Regions from separate parts of the Homo sapiens genome. Here regions 2, 3, 4, 5, 6 and 7 are each linked to region 1. The links come from fine-mapping of genetic effects on gene expression. A gene starts in region 1. Each other region holds a variant in brackets. All regions are shown on one strand. Distances are between the middles of the regions.

Region 1 (4,000 bases):
AGCCTCAGCTGAGCCAGGGTTTCACTGGCTTGTTTAAAGTGGAGCACAGAGCCTGACCAAGTTGTGGCATCTCCAAACCTCCTTCTCTCCGAGGGATCCTCCAGGGTGCCTGACCCCCACGCCTGTCGGAAGTGGGGCCGAGTGCCCGCAGGCCGGTGAAGCTGCCTTCTGGGAGACTCAGGGTCTGAGTATCTGGTCTGAGACTCTGGTCTTCCCTCGCCCTCCTGTTCTACTTCCCATGCCTTCTGTAAAGTCCTGCCGTGGCCTGAAGTGTAGCCCTTCCTGGAGTACACAGCGAGCATGCTGTGCCGGCTGTGGGCCCCCCACCCCCGAGCCGCAAAGCCCCAGGCCGCCTCTGCCTGCTGCCTGGAGACCTGGCACTGCCCCACAGGGGCACCCACCTCCAGCCCTCCTGCCCCCGTGACTGAGGAAGCCCAGTGCTTCTCACACTCCTCAGACTCGCTGGCTGAGCCAAGCAGCCTTGGCTGAAGGAAAGAGCAGCAAACTGACCCCCACGGGCCGCGACCTTTCCCCACCCAGGCAAGGCGACCTCAGGCACTTCAGGGAGCGCCAGCTCTGGCTTTCTTGTATGAAAGTGACAGCGGATTTAAACCACATTAACAAAAGAAATCCCTCCTCTCTGGACTACTCAAAGCGGAAGTGCTGCCACATCCTAGCTGCAGCGCTTCTGGGCCAAATATCAAGACAGTGTCTCAGCGATGATCCGCAAACCAAAATAAAGCCGACAGGAAACAGCCCGCTGGTTTAGGGGAGCTGGAATGCCTCCGGCAGCATCAAATGTCATCAACAACTGACACTCAGCCCGTTCCCGGAGGCCTCTTCACACGGGAAGAGGCCGGCTGCGAAGTGCGGCTCAGTGGGGGAGAAGGACCGTGGGGACCGCGACACTGCAGGCCCTGGAAGCCTCTCCAGCCTGAACCGCGCTGTGGTCCAGCACACTCATGGCATGAATATGGAACAGTCACTCCAGGAAACGGTCTTGCTCTGGGGGAGGGGGAGGACTTCCACATCACTCTCCCAAGATAAAACAACCAGGGAAAAGCAGATCCCTCCAGATAAACCAGAAGTCCAGACACAGCCTCCTCTCCGGAAACGCCTCCGGGAGCCCACTTCAGAAGCTGCTGAAGCCCAGAGAAAAACCGCAGCCTCGCAGGCCCTGGTCGCCACCAGCTCGCCCGCCACTTCTCAGTGGAAAGGGACGTGGTGCCGATGGGTCCGGGGTCTCCCCGCCCCGCGGGAGCCCTCAGCCAGAACGCCCCACCAGCACACACGCACACATGCACACACACAAACGCGCGCACACACACGCGCCCACACACAAATACACACGCGCGCACACATGCATCCACACACAAATACGCACCCACACATGCACCCACAAACGCACGCGCACACACACCGCCCACACATGGACACACAAACACAAGCACACACAAACACGCGCGCACGCAGGCACAGACGCGCGCGCACAGCAGCAGCAGCGCGCCGGGGCCTCACGCCCCTGGGGAGAAGCGTGAAGGAGCCTCCACATTCCCCGGAAAGGAAGTTTCTGGGCGCAGCGGAGAAAGGGAGATGCCGAGACCCCGACGTCAGTGGATTTGACACCTGAAGTGCAGGCGCCCAGACAGCCTCAGGCGCGCGCACTCCTGCAAACACGCGGGGCACACGCTCGGGCGCACACGCGGACAGACGTCCCTCGGCGCAGGGACCCCACCTCCTCCGCCGCTACCAGGGACCGGGGCCGCTCCGGGCGCAGAGGAGGCGCAGGGAGCCGCGTTACCCCGGAGCCGACTCGACCCAGCCCGAGGCCCGGGGAGGCGGGGAGGTGGGGAGGGGCCGCGGAGCCGGACCAGCCGTTCTCCGGGGAGCGCGCCGCGCCTGGAGGGCGTCTCCGCCGGGGTCCCCAGCAAGGATCTGCGGAGGGGAGGCGGGCGCGGGAGAGGACAGGGTCGGGCCGGGGGGTCGGACGCGTGGCTGCCGGCGGACACTCACCGATCTTGATCTTCACGCTCTGGAAGACCCGGAGCCCCTCGTCCTCCACCGCCATGCTGCGCGTCCGCGCCCGCCGAGCCTCGCCCCAAGCGCGCGCCGAGCCCGGGCAGCTCAGGCCGAGCAGGAGGAGCGGCGGCGCCGGAGCCCCGAGCGCGGCCGAGGGTCCGCCCGCCTGCAAGACCGCCAGTTGGCCGAGGGCGAGGGCGGGGACCGGGAGGCTCCGCCCGCGGCCCGGCCCCTGCTCCCAACTGGCCCGGGCCCTGCAGGGGCGGGGTTGGCAGGGACGGCGCTGGCGGGTGGCGGAGACCCGGGGGGCGCAGGGATCGGCTTCCCCCGAGGCCTCGGCCCCCGCCCCCGCCCCGCGGATTGGCCGCTGAGCGGAAGGGACCCCAGCGGGCTGCCTGGCGGAAGAGACGAAGGAAGGTCGCCGGCGCGGCCCGGGCCCGCTGAGCGAGGCTGAGCGATTGACTCGCGGACGAACTTTGCCAAGAGAAGTTCACGTACAACGATCTGGCAGGGGAGGAATCCCGCGCCCAGCCCCAGCTCCTGAGATGCGATCCGAAGGCACCTGCTGCAGACGCACGAGGGGGGCGGGGACACATACACGCACACACAGCCCCCCACCCCAGACCTCCGGCATGGGCAGGTCCCCCCCCCAAGTCCCCCTGCAGACCCCAGCATGGGCAGGTCTCCCCCCCCCCAGTCCCCCTGCAGACCCCGGCATGGGCAGGTCTCCCCCCCCCAGTCCCCCTGCAGACCCCGGCATGGGCAGGTCTCCCCCCCCAGTCCCCCTGCAGACCCCGGCATGGGCAGGTCCCCCCCAGTCCCCCTGCAGACCCCGGCATGGGCAGGTCCCCCCCCAGTCCCCCTGCAGACCCCGGCACGGGCAGGTCCCCCCCCAGTCCCCCTGCAGACCCCGGCACCGGCAGGTCTCCCCCACCCAGTCCCCCTGCAGACCCCAGCATGAGCAGGTCCCCCCCCAGTCCCCCTGCAGACCCCAGCATGAGCAGGTCCCCCCCCCAAGTCCCCCTGCAGACCCCAGCATGGGCAGGTCCCCCCCCAGTCCCCTGCAGACCCCGGCATGGGCAGGTCCCCCCCCAGTCCCCCTGCAGACCCCGGCATGGGCAGGTCCCCCCCCCAAGTCCCCCTGCAGACCCCGGCATGGGCAGGTCCCCCCCCAGTTCCCCTGCAGACCCCGGCATGGGCAGGTCCCCCCCCAGTCCCCCTGCAGACCCCGGCATGAGCAGGTCCCCCCCCAGTCCCCCTGCAGACCCCGGCATGAGCAGGTCCCCCCCCCAAGTCCCCCTGCAGACCCCGGCATGGGCAGGTCCCCCCCCAAGTCCCCTTGCAGACCCCAGCATGGGCAGGTCCCCCCCCAAGTCCCCCTGCAGACCCCGGCATGGGCAGGTCCCCCCCCAGTCCCCCTGCAGACCCCAGCATGGGCAGGTACCACCCTTACCTCCCTTTCTTCTGTCTCGAGGTCTCCTCCTCCCTGACCTCCTCTCTGAGGAGTATGTTTGTGTGTGTGTATGAACTGTAGGTGTGTATATGAACTGAGACTACACTCCCTCCTCTATGTTGCAAAACTTCATTGCACCCAGTGCCACACACACACCCTACACATATATACACACATACATATACCACACATACACTACATATACATATACATACACATAGACACCACACACAGACACCACACACATACTACACACGTGTACACACATACATATACACACATATACACACACCCTACATACACACACCACATATACACATGAACACATATGTTCATATACACACAACACAGACAGCACACACATATACTACCCATACACATGCACAGACATACACACTAAACATACATACACACACCTACGTGAACATACACAAACACACACACACTGCATGGAGAGGAACAGGAGCTTCATGAAGATAGAGGCCTATTTTTTTCCACTGCTTACCTTCACTTCCTAAAAAGCAGTTC
Region 2 (4,000 bases), 190 kb before region 1:
CCAGGGCACTGACCTCTCTGGGCCCAGCGCCATCTCATGCTCACAGGTCTGATGACAATACTTCTCAGGAGGTGCTGGGAAGGCCAAAGGGATCATCCCATGTGCTTCTAAGTCAAACACGATTCAGCGTGAAAAACACTGGCCTGGGTCATCAAGAAACCGGGTGCCAGGCAGGATGAAAGGAAGTGCCGCTGGCCTCATCTGAGCCAGAGCCTCCTGTCTGTCATGTGTGTGGGCTCTGACGCAGGGGGACCAGGATGCCCGGGTGGCAGCCGTGATCAGGGGAGGCATTCGGGCCACCTCAGAGGCCCCAAGAGGCTACCTGCCTGCCTGGCCCTGCCCATGCGGCCAAAGTCCACCCCAGGGGCGGGGGCTGCGCCTCGGCCTCAGATGCACCGTCAGCCGCATTTGGCTCCTCTTACTACTGAAGAGGGGAAGGAAGAGTGTGCAGCAGGGGCCTGGGCCGTTTCCCCGGAAGCGAAGAGCAGGAGGCCAGAGCCAGGTGGGCTCCCCTAGACCCTGCGGTGCTGCCGCCAAGCCCCCCACCCCCAGATGAGCCAGCCTGCAGCACACACTGGCGGGGTGGATGCCAGCCGAGTATTCCCAGGGGAAGCACTTTCCCTGTGCCACCCAGACAGAAGACGCAGGTGCTGGTTTCCTATGGGGCTCTGCGTGAGGATGGGCGTCTGGGACCCTGGTCTCCTCTAGGACTCCATGTGTGAGGCTGGGCATTCGAGACCCTGGTCTCTGGGACTCCATGTGTGAGGCTGAGCGTTCGAGACCCTGGTCTCTGGGACTCCATGTGTGAGGCTGAGCGTTCGAGACCCTGGTCTCTGGGACTCCATGTGTGAGGCTGAGCGTTCGAGATCCTGGTCTCCTCTGGGACTCCGTGTGTGAGGCTGAGCGTTCGAGACCCTGGTCTCTGGGACTCCATGTGTGAGGCTGAGCGTTCGAGATCCTGGTCTCCTCTGGGACTCCGTGTGTGAGGCTGAGCGTTCGAGACCCTGGTCTCTGGGACTCCATGTGTGAGGCTGAGCGTTCGAGACCCTGGTCTCTGGGACTCCATGTGTGAGGCTGAGCGTTCGAGATCCTGGTCTCCTCTGGGACTCCGTGTGTGAGGCTGAGCGTTCGAGACCCTGGTCTCTGGGACTCCATGTGTGAGGCTGAGCGTTCGAGACCCTGGTCTCTGGGACTCCATGTGTGAGGCTGAGCGTTCGAGATCCTGGTCTCCTCTGGGACTCCGTGTGTGAGGCTGAGCGTTCGAGACCCTGGTCTCTGGGACTCCATGTGTGAGGCTGAGCGTTCGAGACCCTGGTCTCTGGGACTCCATGTGTGAGGCTGAGCGTTCGAGATCCTGGTCTCCTCTGGGACTCCGTGTGTGAGGCTGAGCGTTCGAGACCCTGGTCTCTGGGACTCCATGTGTGAGGCTGAGCGTTCGAGATCCTGGTCTCCTCTGGGACTCCGTGTGTGAGGCTGAGCGTTCGAGACCCTGGTCTCTGGGACTCCATGTGTGAGGCTGAGCGTTCGAGACCCTGGTCTCTGGGACTCCATGTGTGAGGCTGAGCGTTCGAGATCCTGGTCTCCTCTGGGACTCCGTGTGTGAGGCTGAGCGTTCGAGACCCTGGTCTCTGGGACTCCATGTGTGAGGCTGAGCGTTCGAGACCCTGGTCTCTGGGACTCCATGTGTGAGGCTGAGCGTTCGAGATCCTGGTCTCTGGGACTCCATGTGTGAGGCTGAGCGTTCGAGACCCTGATCTCCTCTGGGACTCCATGTGTGAGGCTGGGCATTCGATACCCTGGTCTCTGGGACTCTGTGTGTGAGGCTGGGCGTCTGAGACCCAGGAACGTGCTGGAAACAGGAGCTGTTGACATCGTTTCCCAGGCTGGGCTGCTGCTGTTTCTCTGCCTGTCAGATGGAGACACAGTTCCAGCCTCGCAGGTGGCCTTCAGCACAGCACGCCAGGCACCCTGGGTGCTGCCCCCACTCTCCCCACCCAGAAGGCAGCTGCGCAGGGTCCCTGGCCTGGAGGACCTGCCTGGACCTGCCCAGCGCCCTGGACGAGGTCTGCCCTAGGCCTCCGCATGTCACCTGTCCTCTGAGCAGTTCCTGCCACTGCTTTACTCTCACCGCCTTCCTCTCCCCTTAGCACTTTACCTCCAAATGGGCTGTCCTTGCCGGCGGCTGACTCATTGCTCCTCCAGAGCAGGGAAGTTTGCAATGAGCTGAAGTCCTGTGGAGCCCAGAGCCGGAGGCTCACCCCCAGATTTAATTAATTAAAAAGTAAGAGCTTGTGAAGGTCACAGGGGCCAACATGAAGAGCTGCCAAAGGCCGATCATGGTGGCATGAGCAACAAAACGCACAGAGGCCGTGCTGATTGCAAACCACAGAATCCACTACTGTGGTCACTGACCTA[C/T]ACTTTTCACAAACCACAGAATACAATAGACGCATATGAGTTCTGCTGCTGTCGCCACTGGCCGGGTCAACACGCAGCCCGGGAGGAGGGACCCACTGCTCTTCCCTGCAGGAGAACCTCGATGGATAAATGCCTGAGGAAATGGGGAAACAGAAAATCACCACGAGTCAAAGTCCACGGAACTGATTGCTGCTGACAAGACCCCCATGGATGCCAAAATCAGAGAAGTTCCAGGAGAATCAGGATTTGGTCTCCCAGTGTCTCCAGGACGATTATCCCCTACAGAGGAAGGACGGCGATTTGACCAGGAGACTCGGCAGACACCACCTGGACCTGTAGTTGGACACATCAGCTCAGGAGCCACTGAGAGACAGCCTTACCTCCACAGGATGCTTGCCAAATGGGCTGGACTTCATACAGTCCTGAGAACACGAGACAGCAAAATCCATGCCCAGCCCCCAGGACAAGGATGGCCAGAGCTGACGCGGGCACGGGCAACCAGGGGACTGGGTGTCTGGATGCAGTGAGGGAGGATGAGGGAGACGGCAGGGCGCGGTAGGAACCCCTGGGCCAGCGGGCTCCAGGCAGCGGAGGCGGCCTGTTGGTGATCGGTCAGCCAGTTACTGTGCCCTTTACCTTGAGGATGGGACACAGGTCCTCTGGCGTCTCCTTGGACTCCCTGATGCCTCTGAGAAAGGCACAGCGCCCCAGTGCCCGCCGGAGGTGAGGTGGGAGCCAGGTGGGAGCAGTCAGTGCCCCTCACGAGCACTGCAGATGGCCGGCGGCCATGGCTCTCTAAGGCCCGCTTGGTGGATGCTGAGCCCTGCCCTCAGGGAGCGCTGGCCCCTCGGGTCCCTGGGCCCTGACAGTCCCACTGAGGCTCGGCTCCATTTCTGCAAATGGCTGCCTCCCACAGGAGAGCTCGGGGAGAGCTCCGGGCCGGGGTCAGACAGCAGCGTTGGCTCCTGTCAACAAAGAGTCAAACTCTGTAAAATGTGGGGAGATTCATTCTGAGCCCAAGACAAGTGACCGTGGGCCATGACCCAGCCCTCAGGAGGGCCTGAGGACATGTGTCCAGGGTGGTCAGAGAGTAGCTTGCTTTTATGCATTTTAGGGAGAATGAGACTTCAGGCAATACATTTAAGAAATATGCTGGTTCGGCTCAGAAAGGCAGGGCAATGCAAAGCAGTCAGGGGAGCAGAACTCTCAGGTTATAGGAAGATTTAAAAACTTTCCGGTGGACAATTGGTTACATTTATCTAAAGACCTGGGATCAATAATAGAAAGGAATGCCTGAGTTCAGATCCAGGATCCTGGAAACCCAGGTTCTTATTTGTGGAGGAGGCCTTCAGGTAGCAGCTTCAGAGGGCTGTGAAATGTTTCTCATCAGACTTCAGGTCTGTGTGGACGTTAATGCTGGAAAGGTAGAACGAGGCATGTCTGACCCCCGTTCCCGTCATGGCTGGAAACCACCTCTCGGGTTACATTTTAAGAGGGCTCTGGTGAGGACGAGGTCCACTCAGATGGTTGGGAACCTTAGTGTTTTATTTTTGGCTTACGCTCTGTTGGTGGGTGATGACGAGTG
Region 3 (4,000 bases), 120 kb before region 1:
TTGAAGGTTCAACTCAGAAGTGCTGGGGGCCGGGCTTGGTGGCTCACGCCTGTAATCCCAGCACTTCGGGAGGCCGAGGCAGGTAGATCACTTGAGGTCAGGAGTTCGAGACCAGCCTGGCCAACATGGTAAAACCCCATCTCTAATAAAAATACAAAATTAGCTGGGCGTGGTGGCGCACGTCTGTAATCCAAGCTACTAGGGAGGCTGACGCACGAGAATTGCTTGAACCCAGGAGGCAGAGGTTGCAGTGAGCTGAGATGGTACCACTGCACGCCAGCCTGGTGACAGAGCAAGACTCTGTCTCAAAAAAAAAGAAGTGCTGGGGAATGGGCAATCCCTCACGTCCTCTCGCCCTGGCCATCTCCTTCCAGCTCTGCCACCCGCACGTGCAACACGGTCACCCCAGATCCCTGTACCCTGAGAGCTGCGGCCCCAGCAACCACATTGGGGCCTGGAGAAAATCAGTGCTAAATAGGAATCTGTTGACTCAATACACGGATGATACGCCGATCATCAATACTCCATATGTGATGGGCAGGGGAGGAGAGCAGGGCGGTGACCAGCAGCTAAAACCCTGGACAAACCGTCCACTGCTTTTGTGACACTGTCTCGACTCCCCCAGAACGTACACAGCTTAAATAGGTCGGTGAACCACCTGCAACGAGGACGTTCCAGGACCCAGCGCATCCACCAGCACTCCCCACGCACCGTCCACACACTCCACACACACTCCACACGCACTCCCCATTCCACACACCTTCCACACTCCCCGTGCACCGTCCACACACTCCACACACACTCCCCATTCCACACGTCTTCCACACTCCCCACTCCCCATGCACCGTCCACACACACTCCCCATTCCAAACGCACTCCCCACTCACTCATTACACACACTCCCCACGCATTCCACACACACTCCTCATTCCATGCACACTCCCCATGCATTCCACACACACTCCCCATTCCACACACACTCCTCATTCCACGCACACTCCCCACTCACTCCTCATTCCACACACACTCCCCATTCCACACGCCTTCCACACTCCCCACACACTGTCCACGCACTCCACACACTCCTCATTCCACACACACTCCCCATTCCACACACACTCCCCACTCACTCATTCCACACACACTCCCCATTCCACATGCCTTCCACACTCCCCACGCAGTCCACGCACTCCACACACTCCTCATTCCACAAACACTCCCCATTCCACACACACTCCCCACTCACTCCTCATTCCACACACACTCCCCATTCCACATGCCTTCCACACTCCCCACGCAGTCCACGCACTCCACACACTCCTCATTCCACAAACACTCCCCATTCCACACACACTCCCCACTCACTCCTCATTCCACACACACTCCCCACTCACTCCTGATTCCTCACACACTCCCCACGCATTCCACACTCCACACGGTCGGCCCCCTACAGCCACGCAGATGCCCCAACCCAGGCCGGCGTCGCAGGACAGCTCAGAAAGCCTCGGTCCCTCAGCCGGTCACTCACCGTGTGGTGCGGCGTGAGCTGGAAGAGGTTGGGGGAGAGAATGGCGGGCGCAAAGAACCTCAGGAAGATGAAGCTGCTCACTGCAGTGTACCTGACGTCCGGGTCATCTGCGGGAGAGAGAAGCAGGGTGACCGTTTTCCTCGGGCACAATGGCCTCGTGGGGACACCATGCCCCGGCCCCCTGAGGGTCCGCAGGGAAGTCCAGCCACAGTCCTGGCTCTATCTCCACCTGTGTCTGTCTCTCTCCCTCTCTCTGTTTCCCTCTCTCCCTCTCTCTGTTTCCCTCTCTCTCTCCATCTCTCTGTCTCTCCCCCTTTGTCTCTCTCCCTGTCTCTCTCCGTATCTCTGTCTCTCTCTCTCTCCCTCTATTTGTCTCTCTCTCATCTCTCTGTCTCTCTCCCTCTCTTTGTCCCTCTGTCTCTCTCCCTATCTCTGTCTCTCTCTCTCTCTCTCCGTCTCTGGCTCTCTCCCCCCCTCCATCTGTCTCTCTCTCTCTCCATCTCTTTGTCTCTCTCCCTCTTTGTCCCTCTCCCTGTCTCTCTCCCTATCTCTGTCTCTCTCTCTCTCTCCCCCTCTCTCTCTCCGTCCGTCTGTCTCTGGCTCTCTCTCTCTCTCTCCATCTCTCTGTCTCTCTCCCTCTCTGTCTCTCTCCCTAACTCCATCTCTCTCTCCCCGTCTCTTTCTCTCCGTCTGTCTCTCTCTCCATCTCTCTGTCTCTCTCCCTGTCTCTCTCCCTATCTCTGTCTCTCTCTTTTTCTCTCTTTCTCTGTCTCTCTCTCTCCGTCTCTCTCTCCCTGTCTCTATCTCTCTGTCTCTCTCTCTCTCTCTCCGTCTCGATCTCTCTCTCCATCTCTCTCCGTCTGTCTCTGTCTCTCTCCAT[C/CTCTA]TCTCTCTCTCCGTCTCTATCTCTCTCTCCGTCTGTCTCTGCCTCTCTCTCCGTCTGTCTCTGCCTCTCTCTCCGTCTCTCCCTGTCTCTCTCTCTCTCTCCTTGTCTCTCTCTGTCTCTCTCCTTCTGTCTCTGCCTCTCTCTCCATCTCTCCCTGTTTCTCTCCATCTCTCATCACCACCACACAGCGCAGCCCCTTTGGTGTCTCATTCCACAGTGGTCTGTGCTCATCTGGGTGAGAGGATGTGTTTTATCTCTTCACTTCCACCTTGTTCAAAGTGGGTCTGGGGCTGGGATGTGCTTGGGAACTGCCTCCCCCAGAACCCTGGGCCCCTCGGCCGGCGCTGTCTGACTGTCTGATGTCCTGAGAATCAGGGGTGGGGACAGCGTTTGTCTCCTGGGGACACAGAAGCGTGGACGGCTCTGCAGGACCATGGCCACCCCGGGGTGTCTGCAGCTGTCCCGAGGCCACAGGACACGCAAGGAAGAGAGGAGCCGGCAGCAAGGCCCTCGCTGAGCCTCTCAGCGCCCCATACATAGCCTGAGTCCTGGCGGGGTCTTGAGTATCGCAGGTGATGGGTGGGTGCAGGCACCCAGCTCCTCCCTGAGGGTCGGCAAGGTTGAGAAGTGGGGTTTGGGTGCTGGATGCCCAGGTCCCTAGGGGATCTCCGGCTTGGGGGTTTGAAGAAAGGGCAGCTCCCCCAGGGGTCCTGTCTCTTCGAAGACACGGGCAGGCAGAGCCCCCAACACCACTCTGGGCCCTGCCAGGGTCGGCCACAAAAAGAAACCACTGGGAAAACCCAGGGGTCCACATCAGGAAAATTCACATTCCACCCCGACAAAGCCTGGCCACCCTTCCCGGCCCCCCCAGAGACCACTGTGGTCGTGAACTCCAGGGCTGGGCCCCTCTAGAGACCACTGCGGTGGTGATCTCCAGGGCTGGGGTCCCCTGGAGACTACTGTGGAGGTGAACTCCAGGGCTGGGGTCCCCCAGAGACCACTGCGGTTGTGAACTAGGGAACACTGGCCCGGGCACAAACCCCGGAAAAATCCAGCATCGGAACTGGGGTTCACGACCCCGCAGTTCTAGTCTAGCCAGGGCTGCGGGGGGTTCTGCCTGGGTGGGAGTCACCCTGCACAGCGCTATGGCAGTTTCTCAGCAACATGAGGGTGTTCAGGGCACTCACCCTGGAAGCGCTTGGCCGCCGCCTCCCGGAGGGAGAAGAAGATGTCACACATGACGGTCGGGCAGCTCACCCCAGACTCAGTGATGGCGTGGAAGACGCGGTCCACATACTGCCGTAGGTTCTCCTGCAACGGGACACGGCACTGGGACCCACTCCCGAGGCTGCCCACAGGTGCGTGTAGCACCAGGGCACGCCCAGGGAGGGGCGCGTGGGGAGGGGCTGAGGGCGGGCGCAGGGCAGCTGCGGCAGTGAGACACGTGTGAACAGCCACTCCCTGGAAATCTGTGCTGGGAGCTGTGGCAATTCACGCGTGAAAATCACTACACAGGCACCACGTCGGCTCCCCGGCTCGGCCCCGACCTCGTTTACTGAGTGGGGAATGGACGTTCACTAGAATGTGCCTGC
Region 4 (4,000 bases), 42 kb after region 1:
CAGGATTTCTCTGACTCACGAGGCATCCTTAGCATTTTGTCGGCATGCTAGGCTTCTGGGTTCCCTTTCCCCGAGGGCCCCACTGACCCGGCTTGCTGCACCAAAGCCAATGCAGCCAAGCCACAGCACAAAGGAAAATTATCTTTTTCTGCTCTGGCCAGAGCAAAATACATGTGACAAAACATAGATGTTAGCCACTCTGCTTTGCCCCCAATATCAAACTGGCAAGGCTCAAACTTGCCCCCAGATTGGCCCCATCATCTCTAAATCTTTCTAAAAGCTTCTGCATATTAATATGCATCCCTAGATGAGACTAATTTGTGAACCCTCATTTTTAAATGCACTTTTGTGCATTGTTCATTTGGAACATTCCACTGTAAGTTACCTTTAGTAAGATTTTGCCATTTCTTTAAGACTTCATGGCCTCCCAGGCCTAATGTATAAGCCAGAAGGAACTCAGTTTTCTAGAAACTAAGGATCCCATTTTTGATAGCATTAGTATTAAGAGAAATACGTAATGTAGATGACAGGTTGATGGGTGCAGCAAACCACCATGGCATGTGTATACCTATGTAATAAACATGCATGTTCTGCACATGTACCCTACAACTTAAAGTATAATTTTAAAAAAAAAAGGATCCTATTTTTACCTAAAATATTGGCTTTACTCTCAGATTCCCTTGATTAACTTAGCCAATTGATATGGTTTACTGTGTCCCCACCCAAATCTCAACTTGAATTATATCTCCCAGAATTCCCACATGTTGTGGGAGGGACCCATTGGGAGGTAACTGAATCATGGGGGCTGGTCTTTCCCATGCTATTTTCATGATAGTGAATAAGTCTTGCAGGATCTGATGGGCTTATCAGCAATTTCTGATTTTGCTTCCTCCTCATTTTTCTCCTGCTGCTGCCATGTAAGAAGTGCCTTTCACCTCCTGCCATGATTCTGAGGCCTCCCAGCCATGTGGAACTGTAAGTCCAATTAAACCTCTTTTTGTTCCCAGTTTCAGGTATGTCTTTATCAGCAGCATAAAAACAGATTAATACACCAATGATTTTTTTCTACCTAAGCGCACAGGGAAAATGAAACAAAGGGGTGGAACACAAAAATCCCTGTGAATTTCCAAAAGCCAAATTTTATAACCCCTACAATATCAGATCCCACTTCTGACACCATCTATTAAAAGAAAAACTTGAGCCAAATTAAATCTAAAGGAGTTTAATTAAGCAATGAAGGATTCACAAATTGGACAGCCCCCAGAATCACAGCAGATCCGAAAAGACTCTAGCACGGCCATGTAGTGGAAGAATATTTATAGACAAAGAAAGGGAACTGACGTACAGAAATTGGAAGTGAGGTACAGACAGCTGGATTGGTTACAGCTCAGGGTTTGCCTTATTTGAACACAGTTTGGACACTCAGCAGGGTGAGTGGTTGAAGTACAGCTGCTGGAATTGGCCAAGACTCAGCTGTTGTTACAGGCTCAGACTCCTAAATTAGGTTTTCAATCTTGTCTACCTATTAAGTTAGGCTGCAGTTTATCCACAAGGACTCATAAATCTGGAAGTACAGAGTCCTTCTTGGGCCATATTTAGTTGCTTTAACACACCTATAACAAATTAACTTTACCAAGGTGTCTTCCAGTCTCAGCTTCTCACATGCTAGTAAGAGGAAGTTTTTCCAAGGTATCTTCTGGGCTCAGCTCCCCACTTACTGGTAAAAGGAGCAGTTTTGTGCATATCTTGCTGGGTTTGTCTTTCCAGTCATCACAAGAGTGGCTGCACCACACCCCATCACTTTCTGTGTGGAGTGGGCCCAGCTCCAGCTCTGTGCAACAGTAAACCAGTGACACTGGAATTCATGTGTTTATACACTCAGCTTTC[A/G]CATGCTTCTGCATCAATTTTTTAAGACTATTTCCAGAGTGGGATTGAGACCTAAGTGAATCGTCCCAGGAATAGGGTTCTTGAGAAATGATTGCATGAGTAAGGCTGCAGTTAACACCACCATGACTAATTACCAGCAAATTGAACTCCTTCTGTTCTGTGAAAGTTGCTAGTACCAAAATAGGTTCACTCATATCAAACTCTAACAAAATGGGGTGGGGAGGCCATGACGGGGCGCCCTCATACACAAACACCTGGACAAGCCTCATCTCAAGGCACCCCTGCACGGGCCTCAGGTTCGCCCATATTAGGATGCATTGCACGAAAATTCCTCAAGACAGGTCGGTATTACAGGTGAGCGGCCTGCACAAGGAGCTAACGCCAGCTCTGGGACAAGCTCTGCTAACCAGTGATTTTTGTTACAAAGCAGCTTCTGTGGAGTTCTCTCTGTCTTTAAAGATCTCCCCTTTGCCCTGGCCCCTCCAGTGTGCCTGTGATCTATCATAGCATGCAATCCCGTGCTATTCTCACTTAAATTTATTTGTTCTGGAGAGCCTGTTCCTTTGAATTTCCTTTTAGGTGGACAGTTCAAGACCCCTAACACATTAATCCACTTAATCCAAAGAGCTCCTCTTGTATCAGGGAAGGCCACAGGGACATCCCTGTCTTGTTCCTGACCTTGGAATTGCATTGCTTAGTTTCCAAACATGGGATTTCCCAGTTATCTTTTGTTATGAATTCCTGGCTCTCTGCCACTGTGAACATTATCTGTATGATTTCAGCCCTTTGAAACATGTGGACACTTTTTCATGGCCCAGCATACGGTCAAATTTTGCAAATGTTGTAAACATTCTTTCTGTATTGAAAACTTTTATGGTTTCCTGTACTCTGCAGCTATTTCCGATTTTGTCTTTTGTGCCTTGAAGCAGAGTGAGTCTTATCATCTGTGTCTGAGCCATCTGCTCCAAGGTTCCTGTGGTGCTAGTCGTGTCTTCTCTGCAGGATTGATTCACTTTGCAAGATGTTTGGTGCACTGAGACACTGGAAAGTTGGCAGCATCTTGAGATGTCATCAGTCCAGGGCCACGTTAAGATAATTTCGCGACTTGAGGGTTTTTTAGGCACTGTGACATTAAGCTAATTTCACAACTGTGTGAACCTGGGCCGCAGGGCTCTTCCTTGTCTTGTCCCCTGCTCTGCTGTAACCTGGCAGTTGTTGAAGGATGGGTTATTTCTGATCCACGTTTTCCTGAGGGTGAAGACTTCAGCTCCTATGAAGACTGCCCACCTGCCCCATCCCCCACAAAGACCCCACCGCTGGCATCCTGAGTGCCTTCAGGAGAAGCCCTCTGAGTGCTGGCTCGGGGGTCTGACAGATTTTTTTGACCACAGCCTCAAAATTCCTGACTCCTGGGTGGGCTCTTCAGTATATGCAAGATGGCCTCCAGGATTCTGGCTTTGTTCAGTGGAAGGGTCGACTTAAGCAGGTCACGCAGCAGTTCCTGGTGGTGGTGACTCCCAGCTTCTTTAGCTCAGCTCTTGAGTGATTTGCACTACACAGAAGGTACTGGAGACACAGTTACCTTTTCTGGAAATCAATGTTTGCAAGCACATTTGCCCTCCAAAGGTTGAAGGTTGAGTGAATTTGAAGTGGTTGGAGATTTGTTTGTAAACCACTCTTCTGCAGAATGAGAACGAAGTTGCTGCTTGGTTTTGAAGATACGGCCTTTTGTGGGAGGGCAGAACAGAAAAATCAAAGCTTGGATTTAGAGTTAAGGACACAGGAAAAGAATTATGAATATTAAAGACTGAGTTAATATGTGTCATATAGCAAATACTTTACATATTGCATGCAACATAGTAAGCTGTTCTATGTAACGGCCTCCACATTTCAGGATATCACTTGGTGACATTTCAAGGCATTTCTAAGAAACAAAACGTTAAACTTAATATTGGGCCAAAATATTGATTAAGGCAGCAGCTGAACACCCAAATATAATCTGGATAATCAAAGTCAAAAATAGGCGTTGGTATTTACTTTCTGTAGAATATAAGTAGAAACTATATAATACCAAACATCCAAACCTAGCCCAGTATAAAAAATAATTCTCCAC
Region 5 (4,000 bases), 31 kb before region 1:
ACACGCGGGGCTGCAGCCACTCCCAGGCCTCCATCACACAGGGACGGTACAGAAATAGCGTGTCTTGTGGGTGGGTGCTGGGTCGGGGAGGGAGGGCGACTGCCTCTCCCTTTCCAGGCACATTTGGATTCCCCGGGGTGTCCGGGAATGACTCAGGCCTCTGGTCAGCGCTTCTCAGACCTGTGTTCACACAGCGCGTCTCCCTCCTTTCCCTCCCTGCCTGGGACCTAAGTACGGCTCTGTTTAAAACTGGCCCAAATGCAGGGTCAGCGCCTGAGATGCAGCCCCCACAGCAGCCCCCCCACAGCCCCCCCACAGCCCCCCCAGCCCCCCCACAGCCCCCCACAGCAGCCCCCCCACAGCCCCCACAGCAGCCCCCCCACAGCCCCCACAGCAGCCCCCCCACAGCCCCCCACAGCAGCCCCCCCACAGCCCCCCACAGCAGCCCCCCCACAGCCCCCCACAGCAGCCCCCCCACAGCCCCCCACAGCAGCCCCCCCACAGCCCCCCCACAGCAGCCCCCCCACAGCCCCCCACAGCAGCCCCCCCACAGCCCCCCACAGCAGCCCCCCGTAGCCCCCACCCCACAGCCCCCCCACAGCCCCCCTGCAGCCCCCCACAGCCCCCACATGCTCCACTCGATGCTCACACGCACAGTTTTATCTCCTTAACTCTAATGCTGTTTAAAAACTATTGTCCTAATCAAGCAAGAAAAACTGCAGGTTTGCAAAGCGTCTGCTCTGGAAGAGCGGCAGGCCAGGGTGGAGAGACCACACTGCCACACCTGAACACAGCAAGGCTTTCCAAACTCTGCGCAATAGGAAGACGCCGAATGGTAAATGGAGGAGCTCGCAGGAGACGCAGCTCTGACTCTGCCCCGCCCCGGCCCGCGGTGCTGAGGGCGCGCCGATGTGGATGCCTCTGTGCCAGCACCAGCGGCTGCCCCTCGGCCCCGACCCTCCCCACTGCGTCCTGGGGCACCCTCAGAGCTTCGGCCATGGGGTGCACAGCACCCTCCAAGCATTCTGAAAGGAGATTTTAGACTCTTGTGCGCAACACCCAGGAGCCGCCCGCCTGCAAAGCACTTGGTCAGCGTGGCCTGGAAAGGGGAGGAAGGTCCTGGAGGCAGGGCTCTGTCAGGCGGAGGACGTGATGCTCAGAGCAGCCAGGGACCCCCGTCTGGGCCCAGTCCCCCTGCGCTGCGCCCCACGGCTGGCTGGAAGTTTGTTCTGGAAACCACCTCCAAGACAAGTGCAGCAGCCGGCCCTAGCAGTTGGGAAGAAGGCGGCTGACGTGGCTTCCATGGAAAATGCCAGAAAGCACATCCCACACCAGGACACCTGGGCAAACAGCCTCAACTCGGAAAATCCCAGGCTGGTTCGGTCTCTCTGCTGCCCGGACCTGTTTAAATGTCCAGCCGTTTGGGAACTGTGTACCCTTCGAGAAACACTCCAAGGCCCCAGGGACACCGGAAGCCGTGGAGCCCGGGCCCCATGCGTCTGTGTTCTCGCCACCTGGAGAGGCTGCTAGTGACTGACAGGTGGACTGCGGGGCCTCAACTGCTACTGAGAATGCCACACAATTTTAAAAACTCAGAAATTGCTTATTTTTAGAATTTTCCATTTAACATTTTTGGACCACGGCTGACCACATGTGACTGAAACCGCAGGTGAGGGGGTGAGCGTCAGCCTGTGTCAGGCTGGACACACCTGGGGGCCTGAGGAGCAGCCGGGGGTGTAGGGACAGGGGCTCCCCACACCCACATGGATGGCCTGTGCAGTCACCAGCAAGGCGGGTTCTGCAGGCCTGTGTCCCGGCCAACGGCAGCCACCAAACCTCTCTGCACTTCTGTTACAGACAAGTCAGAGAGGCCCAGAAAAAGGGACCAAAATTGAAGAACCAGGGAATTTCAGAGGGAAGGGAAGGGAAAATCCAACTGGCAAGCAGACCCCTGGGCCATGTGCT[A/G]GGAAGGGGTTCTGCCCAGCGAGGTCTACCCCCAACCAGGACGGGTAGGCAGTGGCCCCAGCACCCCCTGCACCCCCACGGCCCACCAGGGGACTGCACCTCTACAGGAAGGACAGAGGCAGGAGGAACCCCTCAGGGCTGGAGAGTTGCCAGCCACTGCCCGTGCTGGGCCCCGCCCTGAGACAGTGTCTAAGCACCACCCCATGGACAATCCGAACCTGGAGGGGCCTGATCCCGGCCCTGACCCATGCCAGGGGCCCCAGCCGGCACTGCACGCCGGAGATCCGGGCTTTCCTTGGCAAACACGCTTGGCTGTCCTCGTTTCCAAGTCAGCCCTGTTGGTAAAACAGTGAAGCCAGCAGTGAAATACACGAAACCCGAACAGCCCCGGAGTTGGAACTGGAAGCTTCCAGGGAAGACGGCAGTGTCTAAGTGTCTCCCTTAACTGCTGTGGCTGCACCCGGGGTCCTGGGGGTGAGAGGCTTGTGGGCCCTGAAGTCACCTGCTGGATTCCAAAGTGGGCCATGCCAATGCCGTCTGGAAAACATACGGAAAATGTCATTCCCAGGAAATGTGGCACATCATTCACCCTGGACCACGGCACAAGGAAATCAACTCACCCTGGACCATGGCATAAAGACAGACGGGGCCCTCTCATCAGAAAGTGGGGAGCGGGGGTCTCAGTTTCCAAGGACCCCACAAGCGACGTCTACAGGGTGAAAGACCCCGTGCCCAGCACCGAAGGACCTGCCCGACACACAGTCCCCAGCCTTGAGCGGAGACCCCCAGACTGCATACAACTGTGCAAATGCACTTGACCTCCCTTTGGTTGTGAGTCACAGGACTGTCTTAAAAAGAGTGTCTTCTTCCAGTGCCAGAAAACAGAGAGACGGGGGCTGTGAAGCACAGGATCCACAGCGGGCGGGTGGTAGGCGGGCAGCAGGTGGGCGGTAGGCGGGCAGTGGGCAGGCAGCGGGCTGAGAAGCAGAGCAGAGCCCCAGCCAGGAGCCCAGAGGGCGGCAGAGCAGCGGGCACCGAACCAGACTGTCGGACCTGTGCTGGGGGAGAGCGAGAGTGAAGGAGGAAGAGAGACGGAGACAGAGAGACGGTGAGAGGGAGAGGGACAGAGAGGGAGTGAGAGCGCTTCCCACAAGAAGAACCAAGCTCAGGTCCCACCCTCCCCCAGAGCCTGGTGCAGCTGCGTGGGACGGGCAGGAGGTGCGAGGGGCCCTGTCTCTGACGTTTTGTGCCAGCACTGCCCTCTACACACAAACTCTCAGGAACCATCACGACCCCATTTTGCAGGAGAAGATGCTGAGGCCCAGGGCGGTGAGCAGGCCACATGGCCGGTGGCAGGGGCAGAAGTGGGACTGCAGCCCACCAGGTGGTGTCACAGCCAAGGCTGCGGCGTCACTGCCTGTCCTGCCTCACCTACCCCCAGGGCGACGCTCCCGACTAAACCACCTCTGTCCTATGGTCTCCGGGGCTTCCTGACCCCTGGGGAGGGCGGCAAAGCCTGTGGAGGCTGGAGTCCTGTGGGCTGGGGACGACGGGAAGACCAAGTCGTCTGTATAATCGCCGTGGGCGCAGCCGGCAGTGCCACCCACCCACCCACAAGGCAACACGGGGCCTGAGTCCAGCCCCAGGCAGGTGGGCTCCCAGAGTTGGGGTCCCTGAACCAAACCACCCCTGCTGCTCGCTCACCCCTAAGAGTGAGGCTGCGATGCTGTCAGCCAAGGACACTCACGTGGGCAGCTCCGGTGCAGCCGGCCCCAGGGGGAGAAATGCAGCTGTGGCTGTCGTGGAGGTGGCTGTGGCCAATGGCCGTGACTGTTGCTGTGTCTGGCAGAGAAGCCAGGTGCACTGGCTCTGTGCTTCAAGGAGACCTAGAGGGTCTCCCCCAAGTCCACCGGAAATGTGTGCACATTCGCCCTACCCCACTGTGTACCTGGCCCAAGTCGGGAGAGATGCCCAAGAGACCACAGCCAGCCTCAGCACAGTGAAGGCTGCCCTGGCCCTTCGGGGTGTCTGGGAA
Region 6 (4,000 bases), 90 kb after region 1:
ACCATCATCTCGGACAAAAGCTCAGCCTCGGGGAGCCCCATTCTCGCTTCTAAAGATGGGACAGGAACCACCTCCTGGACCTCACGTCAGGGTTAAGTGAATAACATTTGCAAAAATGACTGTGAAAGTGACTCACACTTGGCTGGGCATGGTGGCTCATGCCTGTAATCCCAGCACTTCGGGAGGCCGAGACAGGCGGATCACGATTTCAGGAGATCGAGACCATCCTGGCCAACATGGTGAAACCCCGTCTCTACTAAAAATACAAAAATTAGCTGAGTGTAGTGGCGTGCGCCTGTAGTCCCAGCTACTCAGGAGGCTGAGGCAGGAGGATCGCTTGAACCAGGGAGGCGGAGGTTGCAGTGAGCCGACATCGCGCCACTGCACTCCAGCTTAGGCGACAGAGCGAGACTACGTCTCAAAAAAACAAAAAAACAAAAAAAGTGACTCACACTTACTTGGCAAAAGATAAATTTGAGTTTCTTTCCTTTTTCCTCCTGAAGGCCCTTTACCATCCAGCAACAAGCCAACATGGCTCAGTTTACTGATTCCGGGAAAAGTACTTTGCTGCATTTCAGAAAGATGTTTAACAACAAAACTGACAAAAGGTTATCTGATTATTTGAATAGAGATTTCTCCCAACAGGATATACAAATGGCCAATAAGTGCATGAGAAGATGTTCAATGTTATTAGTAAATGCAAATGAAGACCACAGTGAGATGTCACTTGCAGCCACTAACTTGTCTGCAATCAAAAGGTAGATTACAATAAGGATGTGGAGAAACTGGAACCCTCATAGGCTGCTGGTAGGGGTAAACAGTGGTATGTATACATATGTAACAAACCTGCACATTGTGCACATGTACCCTAGAACTTAAAGTGTAATAAAAAAAAAAGGAAATGAAATAAAAGGTACACAAACTTAAAATGAAAAGAAAAAAAAAGAGTGGTGCAGCCACTTTGGAAAACAGTTTGGTAGTTCATCAAAAAGTTAAACAGTTACCAAATCACCCAGCAACTCCACTCCTAGGTCTATATTCGAGAGACTTGAAAACATACATTCATGCAAAAACCCATACACTGATGTTCATAGCAGCACAGTTCACAATGACCAAGAGGTGTAAACAACCCAAATGTCTATCAACTGATGAACAGATAAAACGTGGTATAGCCATAGAATGGAATATTATTCTACCATAAAAAGGAATGATACTAGTTACAGAATGGATAAACCTTAAAGACATTATTATGTTCCGTGAAAAAGCTGGATACTAAATGCCGCATGTTGTCTGATCCCTTTTATATGAAATGTCCAGAATAGGCACATTCAAAGAGACAAAAAGTAATCAGTGGTTGTCGGGGCTGGGGGAAGGGAAATTGGGGAGTGATCCCAAAGGAGTTTGATTTTTGGAGGGGGAGGTGATGAAGATGTTCTGAAATTATATTGTGACAATAGTTGCACAACTCTGAATATACCAAAACACACTAAAATATACACTATAAAGGGGTATAGAATTGTATCTAAATAAAGCTGTTATTTTAAAAATTGTATGTTTAATTCTAAGTAAAGACTTGTCAATGAGTTGAAATATTCCATTTCCCAAGTAAGTTGATAGTTTCTTGTTCTTGCCTAAGAAAGCGTTAGTTTCAAATATGTATTTTAAATCCAGCAGGAAGTGAAACTGGATTAGCAAGCGCACAGCCAAGCCTGGACCCTAAAAGAGAAGTGAGGAAGGGTAAGGATTCAGAACACAAATCCAGAAAGAAGACAAGT[G/A]TGATGAGGGAGTCACAAGGAAGACCCACAAGGCCAGCCATGAGCTCCCCCAGGCTAACACAGCCAGCGGTCTCAGGGCAGTGTGGGGAATCAGCCTTGCCCAGGGCCGGGGCCAGGGCAGCCCCGCTGTCTTCCTCTCTTCACTGTTATCACAGCCGGAGCAGCTGTGAAGTGCCCAGGAGGCAGCTCCTCAAACGGTGTTTCAACAATGTGCCCGAGCAGATGACGCAGCAAAACTATTTTCTGTGCTTCTTGGACTCTGATAACTGGAAACAAACTATGCAGAGTCATGTTAGGAGGTGAGGGTTTGAATTAGATTGTTTTCTCTAGCTATGAAGACTTATTCTGTTACTGTATTTTGAGCTGTGGTGGATTTGTCTATAATTCCTAGGTGGATTTTTAACTTACCTTAAAAGCTCTGTGATTGTTCCTTTAACAAATATCTAAATAAATCAGATTAAAATTTTTGAACGTGATGAAACTACAGCTTGACTCCAGAATACATAACCTAAGATATAAAAAAGACCCAGAGGGCCAGGCACGATGGCTCACGCCTGTAATCCCAGCACTTTGAGGGGCCGAGGTGGGCGGATCACAAGGTGAGGAGTTCGAGACCAGCCTGACCAACATGGTGAAACCCCATCTCTACTAAAAATACAAAGAAGTTAGCCAGGCATGGTGGCGGGCACCTGTAATCCCAGCTACTCAGAAGGCTGAGGCAGGAGAATCGCTTGAACCTGGGAGATGGAGGTTGCAGTGAGCCGAGAACGCGCCACTGCACTCCAACCGGGGCGACAGAGCAAGACTCCATCTCAAAAAAAAAAAAAAAAAGAAAGAAAAAAGAAAAGAAAAGAAAAGAAAAAAGGACCCAGAGAGTCTCGGTTGGAGACATCAAGGGTATGTCTGAGAGCCCTTGGGATCTGCTTAGTTCTCTATCAGCCCCAGGTAAGATCCCGCCTAAGCTGTTCCACAACAATGAACATCAGCCCATGGGCAATGCCTTTTAAAAATGAGTTAAAAGACTCACACACACCTTCATTCATTCAACAGAACTCTGCATATGTAGTCTCAGCCTCATGGAGCTGATAGCTAGCCCCTCAGAAATGTCACGGTCCCTAACTACTCTTTGCTATTTATTTATTTATTATTTTTATTTTATTTATTTATTTTTTGAGATGGATGGGATTACAGGCACATGCACCACCACTCCCAGCTAATTTTTGTATTTTTAGTAGAGACGGGGTTTCACCATGTTGACCAGGCTGGTCTTGAATGCCTGACCTCAGGTGATCTGTCTGCCTTGGCCTCCCAAAGTACTCTTTGCTATTTTTAACCTATATTATAGATTTAAATTTTTGTTTTGTTTTGTTTGAATGAAAATAAGAAGATAATTTCAGGCTGGGCATGGTATCGCACACCTACATTCCCAGCAGTTTGGGAGGCCAAGGTGGGAGGGTCGCATGAGCCCAGGAATTCAAGACCAGCCTGGGCCACATGATGAGACCCCGTCTCTACCAAAAAAAAAAAAAAAAAAAAAAAGAAGCAGCAGCTAATTTCATTCCTTATTTCATTCCTTTATGCACAAGCCCCTTTAAAATACACTTGACATGAATAGCAGAGCTTGCCTCCGGCTCCTCCATGCAGAATTCGGCAATCCCAGGTTCCTCACCGCTCCTCAGGGTGGACCTTCCATTGACAGTGTTTAAAATCACAGACTGTGGGGTCAGACAGGCCTGGATGTGGATTCTGGGTCTCCTGCTGATCCCCCGAGTGGACCTCCCGAAGCCTCTCCTGTGCAGCAGGTGGTGCTGGAGCCTGAGATGCCGGCATCGGGCCGGGAGGAGCTGGGCCTCTGCCCACTGCAGCCATGACCTCTCCAGGCAGCCCCGCCCCCCTGTGTCGTGAAGCGCAACTGGGCACAGGACCTCCATTAACAGTCCACGTCTGTGCTAAACTTGATGGAAAAAATGGCCTCTCCATAGCGATTTGTGTCCTTGGTTTGCAAGCCTCGAATTTGCACCTCCTTTTCGAGGTGGCAGTTTAGGGTTGACTCTGGCAGCATTTTCCGAATGTGCCTGCCTGTGTGTCCCCACCTTGTTCCACCCCACAAGGGTTGTGCTGTAGGAGTCCTGGCCTCTGCCAGCCCTCCCTGATGGGCCCTAATGCAATGAACGTCAAAGGATCTATCACAAAACTAGAAAGGCTGCTGTCTGGTCCTGAGAACA
Region 7 (4,000 bases), 74 kb before region 1:
CCATTCAATAAAAAGAGATAAAAATAGCAGAAAGAGGAAGCTACAAGAAAACATACGAACTCCATAAAATTATCACCACAGACTGGACGTGCCCCTTTCTAAATGTAAAAGCGGTTTATAGCAACACAGCATGGCCCTGCTGCACTACCCCTGGGGAGCAAGACCTCCTCCAGCCTCCACCCAGGAATTTCTCCAGCAATGGCTTTAGAACCTTGCTCCTGAATCGCAGCAGGGGAGGCAGCGCTTTGGGGCCCTCTGTCAGGCTGCCCCCCCTGCTAAGAGGAGCTGTTGTCCTTGGGAACCACGGGTCCCCCCTCCTGAAGAAGGGGAACGTCACACTCACAGTTCCATTTTACACATTTGCAGCTGAGAACCCTGGAGCCAGAACAGGCTCCAGCACAGGCGATGGGTGAGTGTTTTGCATGTCTGATGTCGTTTATTCTAGTGGTTCCAATTGCCTATTTTAATGTTTTTCTTCTTATTTCATATAACTTTTTAAACTTAAAGTAATAAAGTTATTACTAACTTTGTTTCCTGCGGGTCACCTCAAGTCTTTCAGGAAACCAGGCAGGACATCTGCAGGCGGCCGGCCAGCCTTATCAACGGAGCTCTGAGCCACCAACCACTGTGACCAAGCTTCATTCCCACGAGCTGGACGAGCAGAAGGCATTGCAGGGCAGTGGGGTCCGGAGAGGCGGCCGTGCTACAGGCCTTGCACTCATTTTAATGAAGGCTCTGCAGGATTTCAAGGAAAGCTGGAGCCAGTCTCTGTGCCAGAATAGAGGGTTCGTTCAGCTTCTTAGACCGATGATTTATTTAGGGAATAAGAAGGGCGATTCCAGGGACAGTGGAGGCCCCCACAGGAAGGAAACCTCTCCCCACAATGACTGTGCACAGAGCCAGCCTGACACCCAAGGCCACGATGCCATAGCCAGGGAGCCCTGAAGAAACTCCTGGAAGAATGTAAAACCCCCAGCTCAAGGAGGAGAGTGGAGGCGGTTCCCCACCTTCTGGGGGCAGTTAACCTCTGAGAATGAACCCACAGCTAAAACCCATAAAACCTCCGCCAACCACACCCAGACCTGGAAGGGGCACCTCTGGCCAGGGCGCTCAGCACGAGGGGACCCAGAACAATGGCTTCCCTGGGGTGCGGGCTCGGCCTGCAGGATGGAGGCTGGAGAGCTGCCATCCTAGCGCACACTGGGTAGATGCAGGTGTTTCCAATGTGCTGAAGAGGGCAGGGCCTGGCTGAGGCCCTGGGAGGTCGGAGTCCCGGAGGTGGGTGGGGGTGGTGAGTTCCCAGGTCACTTCCCCAGGTGTGCGTTTTCCTCACTGTCCTGTCCTATTCATTCATTTTAGCACGGAGGCCAGAACCAGCCGAGTGAAGCCCCTGCCTGACCACTCAGGGGTGTGAGGACAGGGGCGAGGACCGGGATCATCAGTCAGCTCCTAGAATGGCAGGTTTGTACCTGCAAACGGAGCACCAGAGTGACATCCCCCCAAGACCCCCGAGATGCCATGAGCCCCATGGAGACCACCCACCCGGCAGGGGCCAGCTCCAGGTGCTGCTGCTGCGGCGAGGCCGTCACCACCATCCACGCGTCCAGCAGGAAGAGCGGATTCCTCGGGCGTGAGGCTCACCACTCACGTTGTCTGCACACCTGCCTGACGACCTCTCCCGAACCTGGATTCCCACCACAGAATTCAGCTCCTCGGGTGCTCACCAGCCCGTGACTTGTGGTCACCAGACCGGACGGAAAACACAGAGACCATTTCCTGTTTTGCAGAAAATCCTGTTGGGCCATGCCAGTCCTAGAGCCAAAACACGGTGTCCACTTGAGGGTCCAGACCTGAGGCCACCCTTGCTGGGACAGCATCTCCTTCCCTCTCAGAGCAATGCCACTGATGCCCAGACCAGCAACCATGCCCGTCCTCGCCTGCCCGACAATGCCCTTCCCAGGCCCTGCTCCTCGGAGGACTGGTCATGGGCACCCTGGACTATGCCGACCCGCAGTCCCCAGGGACCAAG[T/C]CCTGCTGCTGTGGACACAGGTGACCCTGCCCCTCGCAGGGGAGCTGCTCTTCTCCTGAGCCCAGGAGTGCTCTGAAACTTATATCCCAATGAGAACCAAAATCAGGAGTAGAAGTGGGAGTTGAAGGCCAGAGCCTTTTTCGAAGAACTTCCCTAAGCTCTTTTAAATACCTGCATCCAGGCCAGATGCAGTGGCTCACGCCTGTAATCCCAGCACTTTGGGAGGCCATGCCAGAAGCGCCACTTGAGCCCAGGAGTTAGAGATCAACCTGGGCAACATAGCAAGACCCCAACTCAACAGAAAATTTAAAAATTAGATGGGTTTGGTGGCGCACGTCTGCAGCGAAGCGGAGGATTGCTTGAGCCCGGGGTTCCAGGCTGCAGTGAGCTGTGATCACAGCACTGCACTCCTGCCTGAGTGACAGGGCGAGATCCTGTCTCAAAAAACCAAACACCTGCATCTCCTGCATCTTCAGAGCACAGTCCCGCCTGGAGGAGCCGCCGTCAGGCCCTCCTGCATCTTCACAGCACAGTCCCCAGGTGCAGCTGCTCCCCCCAACCTAATTCAGGCCCTGGTAAGCTTCACAAGGCCAAGGGGACGTTGGTCTCCACCAGGAAGACTATATGGCACGTCTAAATGTAAGAATCTGTGACAGACGTCGCTGAAGCCAATGCGAGGAGGCGCAGGTACCCAGGAGGCACAGGTACCCAGGAGGCACAGGTGCCCACACGGGCCTTGCCGGGGGAAGCACGACTTTGAAGATGGGGACGTCCACGTTTCAACGCTGCCTTGCCAGAGGCCAGTTCCCTCATCTCTCAGCCTCAGGACACCGCCCTCTCCACAGTGCAGCCTGCGGGCACAGAGGGCGCTCGGCTGGGGAAGGGCAGTGGCTCTGCCCCCAAAGCGGCCTCCCCAGGACACACCACTGCCTGGCTTGGAGGTTTCTTCCTCTGCCCTGCACAGTGAGACAAGCACATGGCAGGGCCTCCCACACACCAGGACCAAACAACGGGGAGCACTTTCGATGTCTTTGGCCCCCGCCAGGCGTGGCTCACTGGACCCAGAAACCACAGCGCTCTCTCTCTCCATGACTGTTTCAGCTGCCCATCCCCGTTCTAGACTGTGGGAATAGCAGCCAATGAAGCAAAGTCCTGGCCCCATGGAGCCAGCCAAAGAGCACACAGAACCACGAATGTCCAACGCGGGCAAGGCTGGCGGGGGCAGCACTGTGGCCTCGCTCGGGGGACAGGGAGGCTTACGGACGAGTGAGCGCTTGAACAGCGCTGTGGACGGTGAGGAGACCCGCAGGAGGACAAGGGAACGCATGAATGAGGCCATGGACGGCGCGGAGAGCGCAGGAGGGGTCTAGGCAGAGGGACACCAGGTGCGAAGGCCTCGAGGCAGCAGGGCTTGTGTGTGGTAAAGACGTAGGAGCAAGGAGAAGGCTGACGTGGCCTGGGCAGGGCACGGCAGGACCGGAGCATGCTGGGAGCCGAGGTCAGAGGTCAGGGTGCAGCCGAGGTCACGTGGTGCAGAGCAGACATTTCACCACAGCAGCTGGGAATATGCAGGCCCGTGCAAGACACTGGATGGACGGATGCACGGATGGGGCAGTGGGCATGCAGGGAGGAATCACCTGTCTCAGGTCAGCAGCCAGGAGCTGCCCAGACCTGGCACAGTGGACCAGGAAGGGAAGGTCACCCAAGCCTCCACAGGTGGGGCTTTCTGCAAGCAAGGTGCAGCGGTCAGCCCGAGAGGCCACGGTGCCGAGCAAATCCTGGTTGTCCTCATGGGGACGACAGGAATTCAGTTCTGGCAGAGCCAAGACTGCCGGGAAGCCAGAGGGGCTCCTGCAGGAGGTGACGGGCCTGCGGGGACGCGAAGGGCCAGGACCGGACACGCCCCGTTCCGCTCTGCTTCCAGTGAGGCGAGAGGCGGGCAGGACGCAGCTGGAGCCGCGCACGCCCGGA

Direction of the effects. Positions count from the first base shown, and alleles are read on the strand shown. Sizes are in standard deviations (SD) of each study's normalised expression. Not every link is listed here.
For the expression in subcutaneous fat of the gene that starts at base 2,202 in region 1, allele C in region 3 goes with a lower level than allele CTCTA (large effect, 0.93 SD a copy in TwinsUK).

The links. PIP is the estimated chance that this variant, and not a neighbour inherited with it, causes the effect.
Region 2: its variant is the best candidate, but not a certain one, in a credible set for the expression of RASA3 in T cells (TOPMed, PIP 0.76).
Region 3: its variant is the best candidate, but not a certain one, in a credible set for the expression of RASA3 in subcutaneous fat (TwinsUK, PIP 0.88).
Region 4: its variant is the best candidate, but not a certain one, in a credible set for the expression of RASA3 in T cells (TOPMed, PIP 0.85).
Region 5: its variant is the best candidate, but not a certain one, in a credible set for the expression of RASA3 in monocytes (Quach 2016, PIP 0.57).
Region 6: its variant is the best candidate, but not a certain one, in a credible set for the expression of RASA3 in blood mononuclear cells (TOPMed, PIP 0.67).
Region 7: its variant is the best candidate, but not a certain one, in a credible set for the expression of RASA3 in subcutaneous fat (TwinsUK, PIP 0.88).

Annotation. Positions count from the first base shown.
Region 1 is chr13:114,130,422-114,134,421 of GRCh38, forward strand. It overlaps RASA3 (RAS p21 protein activator 3), which reads right to left and starts at 2,202. Exons shown (of 24, transcript NM_007368.4): 1 at 2,014-2,202. The coding sequence starts at 2,068. It overlaps LOC107987192 (a long non-coding RNA gene), which reads right to left and starts at 582. Exons shown (of 2, transcript XR_001750050.2): 1 at 1-582. RefSeq lists enhancers at 1-39, 78-337, 628-1,127, 1,298-1,925 and silencers at 1,718-2,377, 2,408-2,507.
Region 2 is chr13:113,939,756-113,943,755 of GRCh38, forward strand. It overlaps a transcript of C13orf46 not described here. Among named protein-coding and RNA genes, the nearest start is that of SWINGN, 13 kb to the left of the region's middle. The variant C/T (reference allele first, on the strand shown) is at 2,416.
Region 3 is chr13:114,011,614-114,015,613 of GRCh38, forward strand. It overlaps RASA3 (RAS p21 protein activator 3), which reads right to left. Exons shown (of 24, transcript NM_007368.4): 14 at 3,596-3,719; 15 at 1,529-1,635. Among named protein-coding and RNA genes, the nearest start is that of C13orf46, 40 kb to the left of the region's middle. The variant C/CTCTA (reference allele first, on the strand shown) is at 2,409.
Region 4 is chr13:114,172,034-114,176,033 of GRCh38, forward strand. No RefSeq gene overlaps it. Among named protein-coding and RNA genes, the nearest start is that of CFAP97D2, 5.2 kb to the right of the region's middle. The variant A/G (reference allele first, on the strand shown) is at 1,888.
Region 5 is chr13:114,099,328-114,103,327 of GRCh38, forward strand. The region is part of intron 1 of RASA3 (RAS p21 protein activator 3); the gene reads right to left. Among named protein-coding and RNA genes, the nearest start is that of RASA3-IT1, 8.5 kb to the right of the region's middle. The variant A/G (reference allele first, on the strand shown) is at 1,966.
Region 6 is chr13:114,220,827-114,224,826 of GRCh38, forward strand. CFAP97D2 (CFAP97 domain containing 2) reads left to right here. Exons shown (of 4, transcript NM_001395229.1): 4 at 1,675-2,259. The coding sequence ends at 1,681. Among named protein-coding and RNA genes, the nearest start is that of CDC16, 12 kb to the right of the region's middle. The variant G/A (reference allele first, on the strand shown) is at 1,776.
Region 7 is chr13:114,056,707-114,060,706 of GRCh38, forward strand. The region is part of intron 2 of RASA3 (RAS p21 protein activator 3); the gene reads right to left. Among named protein-coding and RNA genes, the nearest start is that of RASA3-IT1, 51 kb to the right of the region's middle. The variant T/C (reference allele first, on the strand shown) is at 2,030.